5 linked regions of the Homo sapiens genome follow. The protein of the gene in region 1 purifies or fractionates together with the protein of each later gene. This does not show direct contact. Each region holds a gene or a part of one and is shown in the gene's direction. Other genes may lie near its edges. The genes, in order: DOCK1, IPCEF1, CD244, ELMO2 and SURF4.

Region 1 (3,558 bases):
AAAAATAAAAATTACAAGTTGTTCTTAAATTTAATGACATTTTGTAAGAACCCGTAAGGCATATTTTAAGGCCAGCATATTGCATGTGAACTCTTCCTGGCCCTTTCTCTGTGGTGTTATGAAATGAATGTCACCCTTTTCAGGGAAAAGTTTTCATTTACCGAGGGAAAGAGTATGAGCGCCGGGAAGATTTTGAGGCTCGGCTCTTAACTCAGTTTCCAAACGCCGAGAAAATGAAGACAACATCTCCACCAGGCGACGATATTAAAAACTCTCCTGGCCAGTGTATCCTTTAAGACAACCTCATCAACTCTGAAACCATGGTGATGCCATTCATTTGGGTGGTTGGGTGTGGTGGGGGGCCTCTCTCATGGTTGATGTCTATGCTGCCTTAGTGATCCTTAACCCCCTCACCTCAGATATTCAGTGCTTCACAGTGAAGCCCAAACTCGATCTGCCTCCTAAGTTTCACAGGCCAGTGTCAGAGCAGATTGTAAGGTAATAATCCCATTTTTCTTACCCAACGTGAGGGTTGTAAGAGGCTGTGTACAGATCTCTTGCTAATAATTCCACCTTTTAAAGGACGGACTTTGGCCATGGATTCGCTTTCCAAATGCTCTTTCTGTCCTCTTTGAAGAGCAAGGGAAGCTAATTATTTTCAGCATCCAAAAAAAGTGACAGGAGATGTTAATCCATGTGCTGGGAGCGTGCAAAGCCTATTCCTTTCCCAAAGTCAGCTGACAGCAAAAACCTAAGAGGGCAGTGGAGGCCGTCTGGTCTCCTTTATAGACCTGCCCTGTGGGGTACAATCCCCTAGGGAACTTCACAGCAGTGCACAAGTCCTGCCTGTTCCCAGCAAAGCCAAGTTCATACATGTGAGTGTGGCCTGAATGTTTGCATTTTAGAAGGCGGGAAATGGGATTTGCACATTTGCTCCTGGTGACACACAGGAGAACCCTTCAGCCTTACAGCACAGCAATTCCATAATGTAGGGTTATGAGGGGGCTTTTAAACCTCCTGAGTCAACTGTCCATATTTGAGTGAGATTTTCTGCCTGTCAGTTGTATCGCACCTGACTTAGCAATGGCATAGAAAGACCTGCTTTAGCAGATGTGTTTGATATTAAGACTTTTCTGTTCTGTTTGATCCATGTTCTGGTGAAAATATTAATCTCTTTGATGACCTCATATTCCTTAGGATCAGCTTCATTTTGCTTCCTGAAGTTTGGTGGTTTCTTTAACCTTTCATCGTTTCTTTGACCTTGCATCAGCAATAATGGGAAATAAACTGGGACCCTGTTTATTTACAAATGATTGCTCTCGCAAGGCATACATTTTAAGGGTTGCAACATTTTTTTTCAGAGGCCTTAAGCAAATAGTGACGCTTAGAGCCTTCTCAGATGCAGTAGTTTCTTTTGCTGTGGAAGCCTGCCTGCATTTCAGTGCAGGGGAGAAATCAGTCTCAGTCTCTCCACGCCCTGCCCTGTGCATGCGGAAAGCCTGCCTCGTACCCCGACCGCGGAGGCAGGTTACTTATGTTTCCTGTGTGTCACTCTTGGGGTGGTTGCAAAATCTGTGCTTTGTAGATCTGAAACTAAGGTATGTAATACTTTTTTAAAATAATAATAAACACATACGTTGAACACAAAAGCTTTTTTCTCTCTCCTTCGCTTCACCTTTCCTCTGTTTTTGCTCATTTCACTCTTACTCAGCTTCTGTTTTCCCTCGAGGGTTGGCAGGGACAGGGAAGAGGCAAAAACTCAAGTTAATTTTTCCACCTGCCAACATTTCCCTGGCTGGGAGAGGACACCAAGGCGATGGCTTCAGGTCAAGGTTAGGGACATTTTACAGGAGGCAGTGACATGTTCTAAGGCCAGACCCCGTGTCCAAAAGCAAATTGGCTATTTGCCGGGTTAAATATCTAATGATCTGTCTGTCTCTGTACAGTTTTTACAGGGTGAACGAGGTCCAGCGATTTGAATATTCTCGGCCAATCCGGAAGGGAGAGAAAAACCCAGACAATGAATTTGCGGTAAAAAACAAACAAACCACCAAACCAAACAACAAAAAATATCATTCCGCCACCAGTAGAACTGCCACTGGAGAAGCGTGGCCTCAGAGGCAGCCACGGAGCCATATTAAATGTCTTTGTGTATTATGTGCAGAAATCTTAATCTATTACCCCCTCCAAAGTTAGAAAAACTAATTGCCATTTCACTAACAATATGACTAAGGTCACTGAGATATTTAATAAGGAGACTGTGCCGTCCAAATGCCGGAGCTCCCATATGAGTAGCGCACTGCCTTCCCTGCGAGCCCCAGGTGAGAGAGCAGGTGCCTGTCATCTCTAGTTAAAAATGGACCCACCGAGTGCTGAGGTGCGGGGTGCTGACGTGGCTTTCTGCAGGTGACACAGCAGTCAGCACATGAACTGGATCTGGACCCGGGTGCTCATTCCTCATTCAGTATCCAGCACCTGAACTTCAGTGGAGCACAACACACAACTGCAGGGTTGACCCCAGCACTACTAGCAATACGGACCGGGTTATTCTCTGTGGTGGGGACCATCCAGTGCATCCAGGGATGTTTGGCAGCATCCCTGAACACTGCCTACTAGGTGCCAGTGCCACCACCCCAGTTGGGACAACCAATCAAAAAGATTTCCAGGCCAGGCATGGTGGCTCACACCTGTAATCCCAACACTTTGGGAGGCTGAGGCAGGTAGATCAAATTAGTTCAGGAGTTCGAGACCAGCCTGACCAACATGGTAAAACACTGTCTCTACTAAAAGTACAACATTAGCCGGGCGTGGTGGTGCACGCCTGTAATCCCAGCTATTTGGGAGGCTGAGGCGGGAGAATCGCTTGAACCCAGGAGGCAGAGGTTGCAGTGAGCCAAGATCGCTCCATTGCACTCCAGCCTGGGGAACGAGAGTGAAACTCCATCAAAAAAATAAAGTTTCCAGACATTGCAAAATAAAACATCTGCCCCTTGTTGCAAACCACGGCATTCGAGTTGTAGAAATAACAGCAAACATCTTTAGAGCCTTTTTTCTTTATTTTTTTATTTTTATTTGTTTATTTTTTTTGAGACAGAGCCTCGCTCTGTCGCCCAAGCTGGAATGCAGTGCCATGATCTCAGCTCACTGCAAGCTCCGCCTCCCAGGTTCACGCCATTCTCCTGCCTCACCCTCCCAAGTAGCTGGGACTACAGGTGCCCGCCACTACGCCCGGCTAATTTTTTGTATTTTTAGTAGAGACGGGGTTTCACGGTGTTAGCCAGAATGGTCTCGATCTCCTGACCTCGTGATCCCCCCGCCTCAGCCTCCCAAAGTGCTGGGATTACAGGCGTGAGCCACCGCGCCTGGCCCTAGAGCCTTTTAAAAATTCTACATACAAACTGCTTTCATGGATTCATTTGTATTTTTATTTTATTTATTTTTTTATATAGAGGTGGGGTCTATGTTGCTCAGGCTGGTCTTGAACTCCTGGGCTCAAGTGAGTGGATCCATGTTGAAAAGGCATCAAATAAGCCATAATTTTTTTAAAATGTTAATGTT
Region 2 (3,558 bases), on another chromosome or scaffold:
CAGCGTCTATTTGGGGGGGATATTTATTTACCTCAGTTTGTATTGAAATAAAAGTTCAAATATTCTGAAAATGATGCAATGTGATGGAACTTTGATCCAAATATAAAATCTAAGGCTGCAATTTAAGTGTACAGCAAGTGGAAACTTCTCAATAAATGGATGTTAGATCATTTTAGTGGTTCATCTGTAATCGTTGATCACTTTGATCCATAAATTTAGGCTGGTACCTGCATAAGTACTTTAATGACAGCATAAATAGCCAGGATTTCAAGCATATTCTTGAGTTTCCCTGTGACATAAGAATCTCTTAAATCCCCTTTTCAGCAGAATTTGAATTACCCTAATTCCTATTACATGATTATCCCCAGCAGAACAACATTCTTTTAACAGGTAAATATCATTATAGGAAGCTAATACATTTAATCTATGTAAAACTAAAAATATCTTTTTTCTCCTCCTCTTAATTGATCCATATTTAATTTTCTTTAGACTTGTTAATTTTATATAATCTTTTTCTAACTATGCAGTAGAAATCTGTGACTGGATAGATTTTTTCAAATTTGGACAGGGTAGAAGTTCTTTTTTTCCTGACTATTGTGAAGGAAACTGCATTCTTCAGAGTTTTATGCACTGATCTGTAACGCCAGAGAGGAATAGAACATTTAACTACTTATAGGCAAATGTACATATATTAATAGAGACTGAACCTTAGTCTAAAACAGGAAAATAGGCCAGGCACAGTGGCTCATGCCTATAATCCCAGCACTTTGGGAGTCTGAGGTGTGAGGATCACTTGAAATCAGGAATTTGACCCAGCACTTTGGGAGGCTGAGGTGGAAAGATCACTTGAGCTCAGGAGTTTGAGAACAGCCCAAGCAACGTATAGCAAGACCTCGTCTGTACTAAAATAAATAAATAAATAAAATAAAATAAAATAAAATAAAATAAAATTAGTTAAGTGTGGTAGAGCATGCCTGTAGTCTCAGCTACTCAGGAGATGGAGGCAGGAGGATCACTTGAGCCTGGGAGATTGAGGTTGCAGTAGGCAATGATCGCACCACTGCATTCATTCCAGGGTGACTGAGAGTGACCCTGTCTCAATAATAATAATAATAATAATAATAAGATAAAATAATACAAACCTCTGAGAAAGGAAAAAAGATGAAACCAACTCAAAACATTTCCCAGGAACCTTAATTTAACATTATTCACTCCTAAAGAATATAATTCTTTGTAAAGTGTCACAGTTTATCCAGAGATAAGCTGTACTTTATACAAAGTTATGTTTGAAGGAGAAAACCTTTAATTATTTGAAAAACTAAGCAAACGGCTGTAAACATGAAAACCATGCATTTTAGGCTACTTGTTTATGATTATTCTGTTTGAATAGCTCAGACTACAGCACACTATTGGATAAATCTGTAATAGTTTTATGGACTGATGAGAATATATATAATCTCATCCATTTCTTGAACATGTTTGAAGATTCTACTATTCTAATAGATTAAATGGTTGTTGCAGGAACGTTGCTGTTTATTCGCTGGGAGTGCAAGTCATTTGTAACAACTTTGTTCTTTCCACCGATTAAAAGCCTGAAGCAAATGATATTAAAGACCTTATTTTCTGGTTCCTTGTTAAGGCACAAATCCCAACCTCTTTTTCCATCCTGACAAAAAATAGTCAAGCAGTTGTTCTTACTAGTGGTTGTGAATGCTGACCATATAATATGATAAGGACCCACTTACGAATATTCAACCTTCACCAAATACTTATTGAGTACCTAATATTTTCCACGTAATGTGCCAGGTATTTCACTGCAATTAAATGGACAAGATCACCTTTGAAATTCCCCTGGAATCGTGTGAATTAGTATTGCCTCTTGGTTAGACTCAGTTATAGCCAGTCTATCAAAGAGAAGTGCCTGAACTTGAACTCTCTTGGTCAAATACACTCACAGTTTTCCAGCTAGAGCTGGATTTTACTCTGGAACACAGCTACCAGAGTTTTCCACACTTGGATTTTCAACTTGATTAATCAACTAGAGCAGCTTTTGCGTAGGTAATGGGGACTTGAGGGAGGGACTGTGGAGCAAGGTTTGAGCCAGGCACTCGAGTACTATTCAGTTTTATTTTGTGAACACTCACAAACATTCCAAAGTTATGTACAAATTAGTTGCCTTGAGAGGAACGCTGGAGTCCCAGATATTCTGAGCTGAGAAGCCAGCACGGGGAGAGAGACACCGAGTCACCAAAACACAGTAAGTGGGCTGAGCAATGAAGGCTCAGCGACTCCTGATTGCCTTGAAGTGACTTTGCTTTCAAGTTGGCATTAGCTGTAGTCACAGGGTCCTAGACATGGGGTGTAGTAATTTCCACCGGGCATTGCATCCTCTTTGTGTTCTGTGCATTGGGAGCAAGTTAGCAAGCGATCCCTCTGTCAATCTCAATGGACTTCAGGCATTGAGCACCAAACCACTGTCCACTCCCCACGAGCTCACGTTTCCTATCATTGTGGAGGTGGCCTTTTGCCAATGGATGGATGCTCCTGGCCTATGAAATATTCTAGGCAATGCCTGGAACTTTCTGGGCAGTAGGAGCCACTGAGGTGAGCCTTAGAGCAAGGCAGAAAATAGAGTCCAAGAGGACCCCTTCTTTCTATAGGCTGGTGAAAAAGTAGTCTTTAATGGCAAAACCTGCAACTACTTTTGCACCAACCTGATAATTGCAGCTTTTCCAACAGGCCATGCAGGGCTTCCCCAGCCCCACTGGCTGTGTGGCACATGGAGGTAACATGTACTGTCCTCTTGCTGTCTGCAAGGGACGGTGTTAAAGGCTTTACATTCATTATCTAATTTTTTAATCAAATAGCTCTAGGAAGTGCTGTTATTATTAACTAGTTCCCTTTCTCTGATGAGAAAACACAGGTTCAGGGAACTTCAAACCTGGCTCAAGGTCACCCAGAAATAGTACAGTCAGGGTTCCAACCCCAGCAGTTTGACTCTGGGGTCAGAATTTGAGCCTAGGCTTATTTGACCTGAGCGTCCAGTATATAGCTGTCCTGAGGGAATATACTATAATATAAGGAAAAGGATGCTACATAATTTCTTATTTTTGGATAAGGTTGCTTTGTGCTTGTCCACCTTTCCATTCCTGGAGCTGAGAATGTGTATAATCCAACCCCAGAGAGGCCAGAGGAAGCCTGTTTGGGTGAATAATGATTTTAGGAGTGCTCAGCCCAGATTTGCCTGAGCCTTGAGGAAAATCTCATTCCCAAAGACACTTCCAGATCAAAGCTGAGGAGAATTGGGGTTGAGGGTGATGGAGCATTTGTTTCTAATAATATAGATTGAAAAGGGGAAGAAAACAGAGATTAAAAAATAGGAAGGCAGAGTTTTGAGAGGATATGCTTGGATAGGGATAGAGTCTGGCCACCCAAATCTTACGTTGAACTGTAATCCAAATTGTAATCCCCACGTGTTGGGGGAGGAAACTTGTGGGAGGTGATTAGACCATGGGGGCTGTTCCTCATGTTGTTCTCATGATAGTGAGTGAGTTCTCA
Region 3 (3,558 bases), on another chromosome or scaffold:
ACTTGTTATCATGGAGAAACAATATCACATATGAGATGATTTGGTTAACTGATGCAAAGAGTGGGACTTGGGCTAGGTGAGTTTTGACAGAGGTAAGGGAGTTGCATTGCCTGAGGAAGAGAGTTAATATGGTCAGTATGAAGCTAAATAGAGAGGAAGAAAGAAATGGGATGTGGGCCCTATAGGATACTTTATCTATCTTATGATTTTGCCCTGACTAGAGCTGGATTGCCCCAGTACTTTTGGAATCTCACTGGACTCTGTTCACTTAGTCCCCAGCAGGTACATCTTTTGATGCCTTCACCCCAAGCCTGGTAGCACAAGCCCTAGCTGAGAAAACCTTAACATCTATTTGTTGGCTGGTGGAAATTCCACTTGCTCTGAGACCCTCCCGTGCTCCTTCTCCCAGGTGCTCAGGCCCCACACCTTCCTCCGACTGGCAGGTCCAGGTTGGAGGAAGCTGAGCTGACTCAGAGCTCTGCACATGGGCTCAGGGCTGAGCGGGACTCACTGCTGGATCAGATTGTCTCCTTCACCATCCTCTGTACTTGTCTCCTTGACCATCCTCTGTTCTTCCTGAGGCTGCAGTGGAGTTAATCATCTGCCCTCTGCCCTCCCTTTCAGAGTTACTAGTTCACCTCATCCGTTCTTAACCACAGGAAGGTGGCCCCCAAAGCTGCTGAGCAGTAGCAACAGCAGTGGCAGGGGCCCGGGGGCCTTCCTGGACTGTGGCCTCTTTCCTCTAAACAATTTTCACTTGTTGGGTCCTCCTCTATGCCTCACTAAATGTGTGAGAACTTGTGTTGAAGTTATGTTTTCGTAGTAGCATTTCATCTCCCCTATCTGGTGTGTGTACCCCTCTGGGACAGAAACTGAGGTCTTTCTGTATCAGTCACAATACCCTGGACATAGTGACTTGTCTACTTGCCTTTTCACCGTATCTGCTTTGCACCCCTGCCCTGGCACCCACCCCTTCCAGGCCGTCCATGGAAACTCATTCCAACCATCTTCCTCCTTCCCACACTGGACTGTTGGGGGCTGCAGGAGAAAATTCAGCAACAAAGAGCAGCTACAGATTCGTAATCTCCAACCCCAGCTGGACTCTCAGTGTCCTGGGAATCCTCATTTCTGGCCCACAGCTTCTCCTGTTCCCCAAAAGGTGGGAGAATTCCACACCTTCGTCATCTCTTTCAAGGCCCTGTTCCACTATCTCAGCCTCCACAAACCAACAACCTCCTTCTTTAAGAAAACAGAAGCACAAGTTAGGGATTCCACCAACCTTGCCAACAAGTCTCCAGTGTCAATGTACTTCATCTACTCCTGTAAATGGCCACATTTGCCTCTGCTGAGGGCAAGAGTGTTCTTGCCCTGTCCTTGACCAATACTCCCCTGTGTGCTCAGGGCACCAGAGCTTCTTTCAGAAGTCACCTGGGACCTGCTGTCTGTGAAGACATCCCTCATCTTTCTTCAGCTGCTCCTTTTCTGTGGGCTTCCTACCTTTAGTACAGTTTCCTTCCAGTTGAAAAATCAAAACAACACCTGGTGTTCTCTCTAGCTCCTTTTTATTTGCAGACAAACCAGTCTTAAATGTATAAACTAATATAATATTACATAAAAATAAAATATAACGGCCTAATTTTTAAAAAGACCCCAAAGGCAGTATAGCATGAGGACTGTAGATCACACATTTCATTCTTTAAGTATTTAGAAGTCTATGGCTGGGAGTGGTGGCTCACGCCAGAACTTTGGGAGGCTGAGACGGGTGGATTACTTGAGGTCAGGAGTTCAAGACCAGCCTGGCCAATATGGCGAAACCCTGTCTCTACTAAAAATACAAAAAAAAAAAAAAGAATAGCTGGGGGTGGTGGCAGGCACCTGTAGTCCCAGTTACTCATGAGGCTGAGACAGGAGAATCACTTGAACCTGGGAGGCAGAGATTGCAGTGAGCCGAGATCATGCCACTGCACACCAGTCTGGGTGACAGAGCGAGACTCTGTCTTAAAACAAACAAACAAACAAAGAAGTCTAGACAATAACTTAACCATTTTCCTGTGTGATTCCTATTCAGTTTTATAATAGCAGAGAACAACCTTCTTCTACATAGCGCTCTACATTCTGATCTACTGGTGGATTATATGGGAGTTTACGTTATTTTTCATTACACCGTATATTTATATTTAAGTACCTTTTAATACTTGTGCTACCTCTCACAATTTTATAAAAGATAAAAATAAAGTGAAACCACCACTAAACACCTGAAAATTAAACTCATGTTCCATCACCCCATTCTCCAAACCTGCTCCATCTTTACCAGACCCATAAGCCACACGTGTGTTTTGTGTTCCCTTAACCATGCTACTGCTGGGTCCATAATACCCACCTTCCCTGTTCCTTTCTGCATACACCAGGCAGGCCTTGGCTTTTTCTTTCAATGGCAGCTCCCACCCACCGCCTCTGGGCAGCCACTCCTAACTCTGCAGGGCAGAGGAAAACATGCTTTCCTTATGCTTGCCTCACACCCTGGGCACACCTCCATAGCACATTCCATATTGCATTTCAGTTGGCTGTTTTAGGTCTATCTTCCTTTTTCACTTTTTTTTTTTTTTTTTTTTTTTTTTAGGCAGGGTCTTGCTCTGTCACCCAGGCTGGGGTGCAGTGGTGCAGTCATGGCTCACTGCAACCCCTGCCTCCCAGGCTTTTCTGATATTTAGCTAAGAGTTGGGTTTAGCTGAGATGAGTGAGGAAATCTACAAATTCACTTGCTATGGTAATGTTTCCACAATGGGCAAGTCATATTTTGCTTTTATCAAAGTACATCTTAGTTAATAGTCAGAACAGTTGAGTGAGAGGTAGTCATTACTCTTTTTCTGCTTTTTTACCAAGATACAACTCACAGCTGTGTGCACAAAATTTAAATCAACAGCTTGATGAACTTTTATATGTGTAAGTACATATCAAAACTACCCACATCAAGATGTAACACATTTCTAGCACCCAGTCATTCCTTTTTGGCCCTTCAAGTTGATAACCCCCCTCCTGCAAGGGTAATCACATTCTAACCTCTCTCACCATATATTAGTTTTTCCAGATTTTAAACTTTATATCAGTGAAATAATTCACTATGTACTTTTTGGAGTCTAGCTTCATTAATACTCATCATTGTGGTGAGATCCATCCACATTATTGCCAGGAAAAGTAGCTTTTCTTTTTCATTGCTGTGTAATATTCCTTATAAGACTATAACACGATTTATTTGCTCATCTAATCGTGATAGACATTTGGGTTTTTTCTCATTTTGAGTTATTATGACTAAAGCCATTATTAACACTCTTGTACATATTTTTAGTGGATATAAACACCAGATTTTCTTTTTTTTTGAGACGGAGTTTCACTCTTGTTGCCCAGGCTGGAGTGCAATGGCATGATCTTGGCTCACTGCAACCTCCGCCTCTCAGATTTAAGTGATTCTCCTGCTTCAGTCTTCCAAGTAGCTGGGATTACAGGTGTGCACTGCCACGCCCAGCTAATTTTTTTTCTTTTTTTTGAGATGGGGTTTCA
Region 4 (3,558 bases), on another chromosome or scaffold:
GCTTCAAGCAATCCTGCCTTGGCCTTTCAAAGCCTTGGGATTACATGCATGAGCCACGCACCCAGCAAGACAGCTTAAATAGAAAACCTTCCTCTATTAAACCAGTATCTGTTTCTCTGTGACTTACCATCGTTAGTGGGCCTCCCAGATGCCTCCAGTATTCCCTTGGTAGGAATTTTTTAAATCCATAGGCCAAAGCGGTACAGAAAAGATGCAGATAACTACAGATTGGTTTTGGCATACTAATAACTCCCTGATTGATTCCACAAACATTTATTTAGCAACTCCTAAGCTGTGTGAAAAAACTAGTTCTGCCTCAGGTTTGGATGTCCACAGAAGGGCCTCTGTGAGCTATCCACAGAGTAGTAACCTGCTCCAAGGAGCAGATGGCACATATCTTGTCCCTGGCCTCCTAGTCCCGGGCTGCACGCCAGCTGATGGAGAGGACCCAGTCATCCAACATGGAGACCCGGCTGGATGCCATGAAGGAGCTGGCCAAGCTCTCTGCCGACGTGACTTTCGCTACTGAGTTCATCAACATGGATGGCATCATTGTGCTGACAAGGCTCGTGGAAAGTGGAACCAAGCTCTTGTCCCAGTGAGTATGACTAAGGTCTCGTTCCAAGGACTTCGACGATTTACTACATCCCACAGGGCATCCTAGTCTCATTTCCCTTGAGTCAAATAAGGAGTTTATTGAATACCACCTGTGTGCAGAGCAGTGTGCCAAGCACTAGAGTCCATACCAAGATATATAATTCCATATTGTGATTCTAAATCGTGTAGTCTATTTGGGCTCTCACAAATTAAATAACAGTACAAAACAGTACTGTGCCAAGTGAGCAGTGAAAATAGGGGCTAGAGAAGTCAGGAGGAGAGCAGTCACGTCGTGACAGACCTGTTAATTGCTGGAAATGTTTGGTTTGATGAGGGTTAGTGAGCAGATGGTCCAGTATCTCCCAGGTGTCTGTTTGTAATCATCCCCTGCTCCTCCCTCTTCAGTCACCTCCCAGCCCATACACACACACACACACACACACACACGCCTTCCTTTGTGTTTACCACAGGTGTCAACCTACCCATTCACCATCTCCCTGCCACACTTTTGCACAGGGAGGAGGAGACCAGAACTTTGTGATACCCACAAGCATCTTCATCATACCCCAGAGTTCACATGCATGCGGTGGGCAGCTGTGCCTTGTGAGCAGCAGTCAGTAAACAGGTGCTTGGAGCCTAACCTGCCAAAGAGGGAGTCAGAAATCTTCTCAGCCCATAGATCAACTATTGAAATTGTTAGCCAAATCGAGTAACTAATCATAGATATTTGTTTTACATATTGGATCTTCCAGCTGTATTGAAGTCCTGAAGCCTTCAGCTGCCATCAGCACTGACATAGTTCTACAGTCTCCCAAGGGTACAGGGTTAGACTGGCCTTAGTTTCACTCTCTTCAGCCTGAGGATAATAATAGCTACCTTGCAGTATTATTGTGAGAAGTATTGTTAATGAGAATGTGTCTGAACATGCTTTGTAAATAGGAATATCATCTGTTAATTCTAGAGCACTGTACAGATGTATAAAGGATTAAATGTATAAGGAGAAGAGAAAAAAGAGAAAACATTTTAATCCTTATTCTCTACCAGCACTAGAATAAGAGCTTTGCATACATCATCATCTTGTCGTCTCCACAACCCTGTGAGGTTAACGCTGTGAGACTAACTTGATTTTACAGAGGAAGAAATTGAATTTTGAAAAGATAAAATTTGCTTGGTTAGTAAGGTGGACAGGAACTGAACCCATCTCTTGCACTCTACTGCCTCTTGGCCCAAAGGTTAACATGGCACTTACACTTCCTTAGGTTCTCCCAACAGGTGTTGGAGTTTGACAAAGGTCCAATGTCTTCTTTGGTCTTGGGAAATAGATAAGTGATTCTGTGTCCCTGGGATGAAGCATATGGAGAAGGAAGATCTAATTACCCAGCAACATTTTTTTTTTTTTTTTTTTTTGCAGCGATAGATACCTGGGCTGAATCTGCTCTACACTGGCTAGGTGTGCACACAGGCACTTACAGTTACAGTTGCATCGACTGATTTCCCATGGGGTGTTCACATTAAAATTCATCTTTTTTGTGGCTGCCCTCACACCTGTGTTTCCCGATCTGAATCTTTGTCTATTTTGTGTGTGTGTTGCACGTGTCTCAGCTACAGTGAGATGCTGGCATTCACCCTGACTGCCTTCCTAGAGCTCATGGACCATGGCATTGTCTCCTGGGACATGGTTTCAATCACCTTTATTAAGCAGGTGAGGCCTCCAACATTCTGTCTTTCTCTCCTCCCTCAGCTGCCAGTTCACAAGGCTTAAGGGGAGATACAGGCAATATCGCCATTCTGGTGAGATCAGCTTTATATTCCCTGGGGCCAGATTTTTCATCCTCAAGCTCTAGTCTTCTGTGGCTTCTGAAAGATTTGCATTTTGTTATATTCTCAGGGCCTGCACTGAGATGGAACTGGACCGTCAGAACTAAATATGATCAAAGTAGAATTAGATTGTCAGTGAGACTGGGGATAAAGCCAGCCAGTCAACCAGTACTAGCCCTGAGTCTTTTGACCGACTTCCTGAGCTCTCTCTTCTTTTTGTATATATATAAAAAAAATTTGCATTTCATTTGTAAATTTGCCTTCTATTTACAAATCTGCAAGGTAGCCTGTTTGGATTGTCAGACTAAGTTCAGTGGGTAGGAGAGGGTACTTCTGGTTTTACCCTCCTTTCTTTTACACAAAGGAGCAGTGTCAATTCAGAATACTGAACTAAAACCAATGAATAATATTGTATCTGCTGCCCTAGAACTTCAGCTATCATTGGCTTAGGACATTGGGACTCCCCGACACTGGACACAAGTGAAATGACCATGTGTCAAGGATATTATAATGGGGACTGAGAAGAAGGATTAGAGTAAAAGGCTTCAAGGTCCTTTCTACCTCTCAAAGTCTAAGTGTGTTTAGGGGGAGTGTGTGTCAGGGGAGGTACATGGAGATAAAATGAGATCCCAGTATCAGTAAAATCCTCTGCTTTTTTATACCCCACTTTCTCAAACTGGAACCCTTATTTTGATAAAAAGAATTAAGCTTTTAGATTTTGAGGAAACACAATTAAGTGGATACTATAATCTGAGATTAAGGTATCCATGCCAAGGGAATCCCTGGCACATTGGCCAGGGTAGCCGTAAACCAGATACCACTATCCACCTAGCAACAGCTGCCCAAATGTGAAGCAGAGAGAGCTTCAAGGGCTAGCATCAGATGCTAAGCTTCTATCTTTCTTGGGCCCTGAGCTTCTCAATTGATGTGCCATCTCTGGGTCTAGATTGCAGGGTATGTGAGCCAGCCCATGGTGGACGTGTCAATCCTTCAGAGGTCCCTGGCCATCCTGGAGAGCATGGTCTTGAACAGCCAGAGTCTGTACCAGAAGATAGCCGAGGAAATCACCGTGGGACAGCTCATCTCACACCTCCAGGTGTGAGTAAAAAACCCTACACCTCCCTCCCTTCACTTGTCTGTCCT
Region 5 (2,606 bases), on another chromosome or scaffold:
CTGAGACTCAAGTATCTCTCTCTTCTTTCCCCTCAGACGATTGCCTACAGCATTTTATGGGACTTGAAGTTTTTGATGAGGTATGTGCATTCTGGTTGGTTTTAGTATACGCTCCTTCTACAGGTTGAGCATTGCAAATCCAAAGTCTGAAATGCTCCAAAATGGGAAAAATCTTGGGCACCAACATGACGCTCAAAGGAAGTGCTCATTGGAGCATTTCAGGTTTTGGATTTTCAGATTTGGGATGCTCAGCCAATAAGTATATAATGCAAATATACCAAAATCTGAAACACTTTGGGTCCTAAGCATTTCAGGTTAGGGATACTCAATCTGTATTTCTAAACTCAGTTAACTATTGGTTTGAGTAGACTTCTCTGGGTCTAAACCAAGCTTGTCCAGCCTGTGGTCCACGGGGTGAACATGGCCCAACACAAACTCAAAAACTTTCTTAAAACATTGAGAGTTTTTTTTGTGATTTTTAAGTTTTATTTTTTAGCTCATCACCTATCATTAGCATTAGTGTATTTTATGTGTGGCCAAGACAGTTCTTCCAGGGTAGCCCAGGGAAGCCAAAAGATTGGACCCCCCTGTCTAAATTGTGCCTCTTAGAAACAGGTTCTGAAGAGGATGTTGCAGAGCCCCTAGAATAGTAGAGACTGAAGCCGTCTCTTCTGACCCTTATTTCACGGGTGTGGGGACTCCGGGTCTGAGTGGAGGACAGACCTGACCACGGGGACCCAGCTGGTCAACACTGAAGCTGTGACTAGGACTCGGTTGTGTGTGTGTTCAGGTAGCCTGTCACTGTCGAGTTGTAAAGATACCTCTGTCTCCTGAGCTATGTAAGGTTTTACATGGGTGTAACTCGAGTCTGAGGTCCTGTGCGCATGCCTGCCTGGTCCTGCTTGGCAGATCACTGGGTTTGGAGAAAGGGAAGTAAGGGCCTTCTTATACTGGCAGCAAGGTCTCCCTGCACCTGGTCTCACAGACAGGCCAGATCCTGGTGAGGCTTAGCTTCCAGCCCACATATCTGTTCCTCAGGAACCTGGCCCTGGGAGGAGGCCTGTTGCTGCTCCTAGCAGAATCCCGTTCTGAAGGGAAGAGCATGTTTGCGGGCGTCCCCACCATGCGTGAGAGCTCCCCCAAACAGTACATGCAGCTCGGAGGCAGGGTCTTGCTGGTTCTGATGTTCATGACCCTCCTTCACTTTGACGCCAGCTTCTTTTCTGTAAGTATTCCTACTTGCCTGAACCGGTCTGGTTTCCTGTGAATGCTGTCCCTCCCCCACCCCCTCCCTGCTCACCCCTCCCTGGTTGGGTATTAACCACAGCCTGGGGGAGCTGCTGAAATGGAGCAAACTTTTTTTTTTTTTTTTTTGAGACGGAGTCTCGCTCTGTCCCCCAGGCTGGAGTGCAGTGCGTGATCTCGGCTCACCGCAAGTTCCGCCTCCCGGGTTCACGCCATTCTCCTGCCTCAGCCTCCCGAGCAGCTGGGACTACAGGCGCCTGCCAACACGCCTGGCTAATTTTTTGTATTTTTAGTAGAGACAGGGTTTCACCGTGTTAGCCAGGATGGTCTCGATCTCCTGACCCCTCGTGATCTGCCTGTCTCAGCCTCCCAAATTGCTGGGATTACAGGCGTGAGCCACCGTGCTCGGCGGAGCAAACTTTTTGATCCCATTAAAACAGACCAAAACATCGTCAATCTCTTGTGTGTCAAGCCTTCTTTCCAGCAAATGAAGGCCAGAACCTCTGACCTTGGTGGAGTGTGCTTGGCCCTTGGTTGGCCAAGGCTCTCCACCCGGGCTCCCCTTACTCTTCTTTCTTTCCTCACTGTTCGTATCTTTCTCAAGTAATTCCTGTGTGTCAGGTGTCAGGGGCAGGCCTCCAGGAGCTTCCAGAGCACACCTCCGGAGCTGACTGAGAGCCCTGGCCGGGTAGTGTCCAGGAAGAGCTCCTGGCGCCATGGAGAGAGGAGAGAGGATGTTTCTGGCCTGGATGGCTGGGTGGGCCAAGAAGCACTTGGGAATTTAGTTATGGATTAGAGATTCATCTTGGTAAATCACAGCCTGTTACTAGTTGGGAACTTCAGTCTTCCCCAAACCTTCCACATTTCAAAGCTGGTGCTTTATTGCCTCCTGCCTCCCTTTGGCTTTTATCTCCCTACTTGCACCAGCAGCCGTCTCAGCAGTAGCTACATCAGCCTGATGGATAGAGACTTCATGACGTGCAGCAGCTGGAACTTTTGTTTATAAAGCATCTCTTTTCCTCACATTTATTTTGAATTTCTTACGTTTCAACCTATGCAGATTGTCCAGAACATCGTGGGCACAGCTCTGATGATTTTAGTGGCCATTGGTTTTAAAACCAAGCTGGCTGCTTTGACTCTTGTTGTGTGGCTCTTTGCCATCAACGTATATTTCAACGCCTTCTGGACCATTCCAGTCTACAAGCCCATGCATGACTTCCTGAAATACGACTTCTTCCAGACCATGTCGGTGATTGGGGGCTTGCTCCTGGTGGTGGCCCTGGGCCCTGGGGGTGTCTCCATGGATGAGAAGAAGAAGGAGTGGTAACAGTCACAGATCCCTACCTGCCTGGCTAAGACCC

The links.
Region 2: the proteins of DOCK1 (region 1) and IPCEF1 purify together in Homo sapiens (affinity purification with western blotting, with the first as the bait; one study listed by BioGRID). This does not show direct contact.
Region 3: the proteins of DOCK1 (region 1) and CD244 purify together in Homo sapiens (co-immunoprecipitation; one large-scale study listed by IntAct). This does not show direct contact.
Region 4: the proteins of DOCK1 (region 1) and ELMO2 purify together in Homo sapiens (affinity purification with mass spectrometry, with the first as the bait; one large-scale study listed by BioGRID). This does not show direct contact.
Region 5: the proteins of DOCK1 (region 1) and SURF4 purify together in Homo sapiens (affinity purification with mass spectrometry; one large-scale study listed by BioGRID and IntAct). This does not show direct contact.

The regions. Positions count from the first base shown.
Region 1 is NC_000010.11:127,408,894-127,412,451, forward strand, and holds part of DOCK1 (dedicator of cytokinesis protein 1), read left to right. Parts: intron 1-143; coding exon 144-285; intron 286-419; coding exon 420-498; intron 499-1,361; coding exon of another isoform or gene 1,362-1,523; intron 1,524-1,946; coding exon 1,947-2,031; intron 2,032-3,558. UniProt on the Homo sapiens protein: Involved in cytoskeletal rearrangements required for phagocytosis of apoptotic cells and cell motility. Along with DOCK1, mediates CRK/CRKL regulation of epithelial and endothelial cell spreading and migration on type IV collagen.
Region 2 is NC_000006.12:154,346,751-154,350,308, reverse strand, and holds part of IPCEF1 (interactor protein for cytohesin exchange factors 1), read left to right. Parts: intron 1-3,558. UniProt on the Homo sapiens protein: Enhances the promotion of guanine-nucleotide exchange by PSCD2 on ARF6 in a concentration-dependent manner.
Region 3 is NC_000001.11:160,852,843-160,856,400, reverse strand, and holds part of CD244 (natural killer cell receptor 2B4 isoform 1 precursor), read left to right. Parts: intron 1-3,558. UniProt on the Homo sapiens protein: Heterophilic receptor of the signaling lymphocytic activation molecule (SLAM) family; its ligand is CD48.
Region 4 is NC_000020.11:46,386,079-46,389,636, reverse strand, and holds part of ELMO2 (engulfment and cell motility protein 2), read left to right. Parts: intron 1-416; coding exon 417-598; intron 599-1,846; exon of another isoform or gene 1,847-1,937; intron 1,938-2,199; coding exon 2,200-2,299; intron 2,300-3,361; coding exon 3,362-3,513; intron 3,514-3,558. UniProt on the Homo sapiens protein: Involved in cytoskeletal rearrangements required for phagocytosis of apoptotic cells and cell motility. Acts in association with DOCK1 and CRK. Was initially proposed to be required in complex with DOCK1 to activate Rac Rho small GTPases.
Region 5 is NC_000009.12:133,363,459-133,366,064, reverse strand, and holds part of SURF4 (surfeit locus protein 4), read left to right. Parts: intron 1-36; coding exon 37-80; intron 81-1,038; coding exon 1,039-1,225; intron 1,226-2,305; coding exon 2,306-2,572; 3' UTR 2,573-2,589; coding exon of another isoform or gene 2,590-2,601; 3' UTR 2,602-2,606. UniProt on the Homo sapiens protein: Endoplasmic reticulum cargo receptor that mediates the export of lipoproteins by recruiting cargos into COPII vesicles to facilitate their secretion.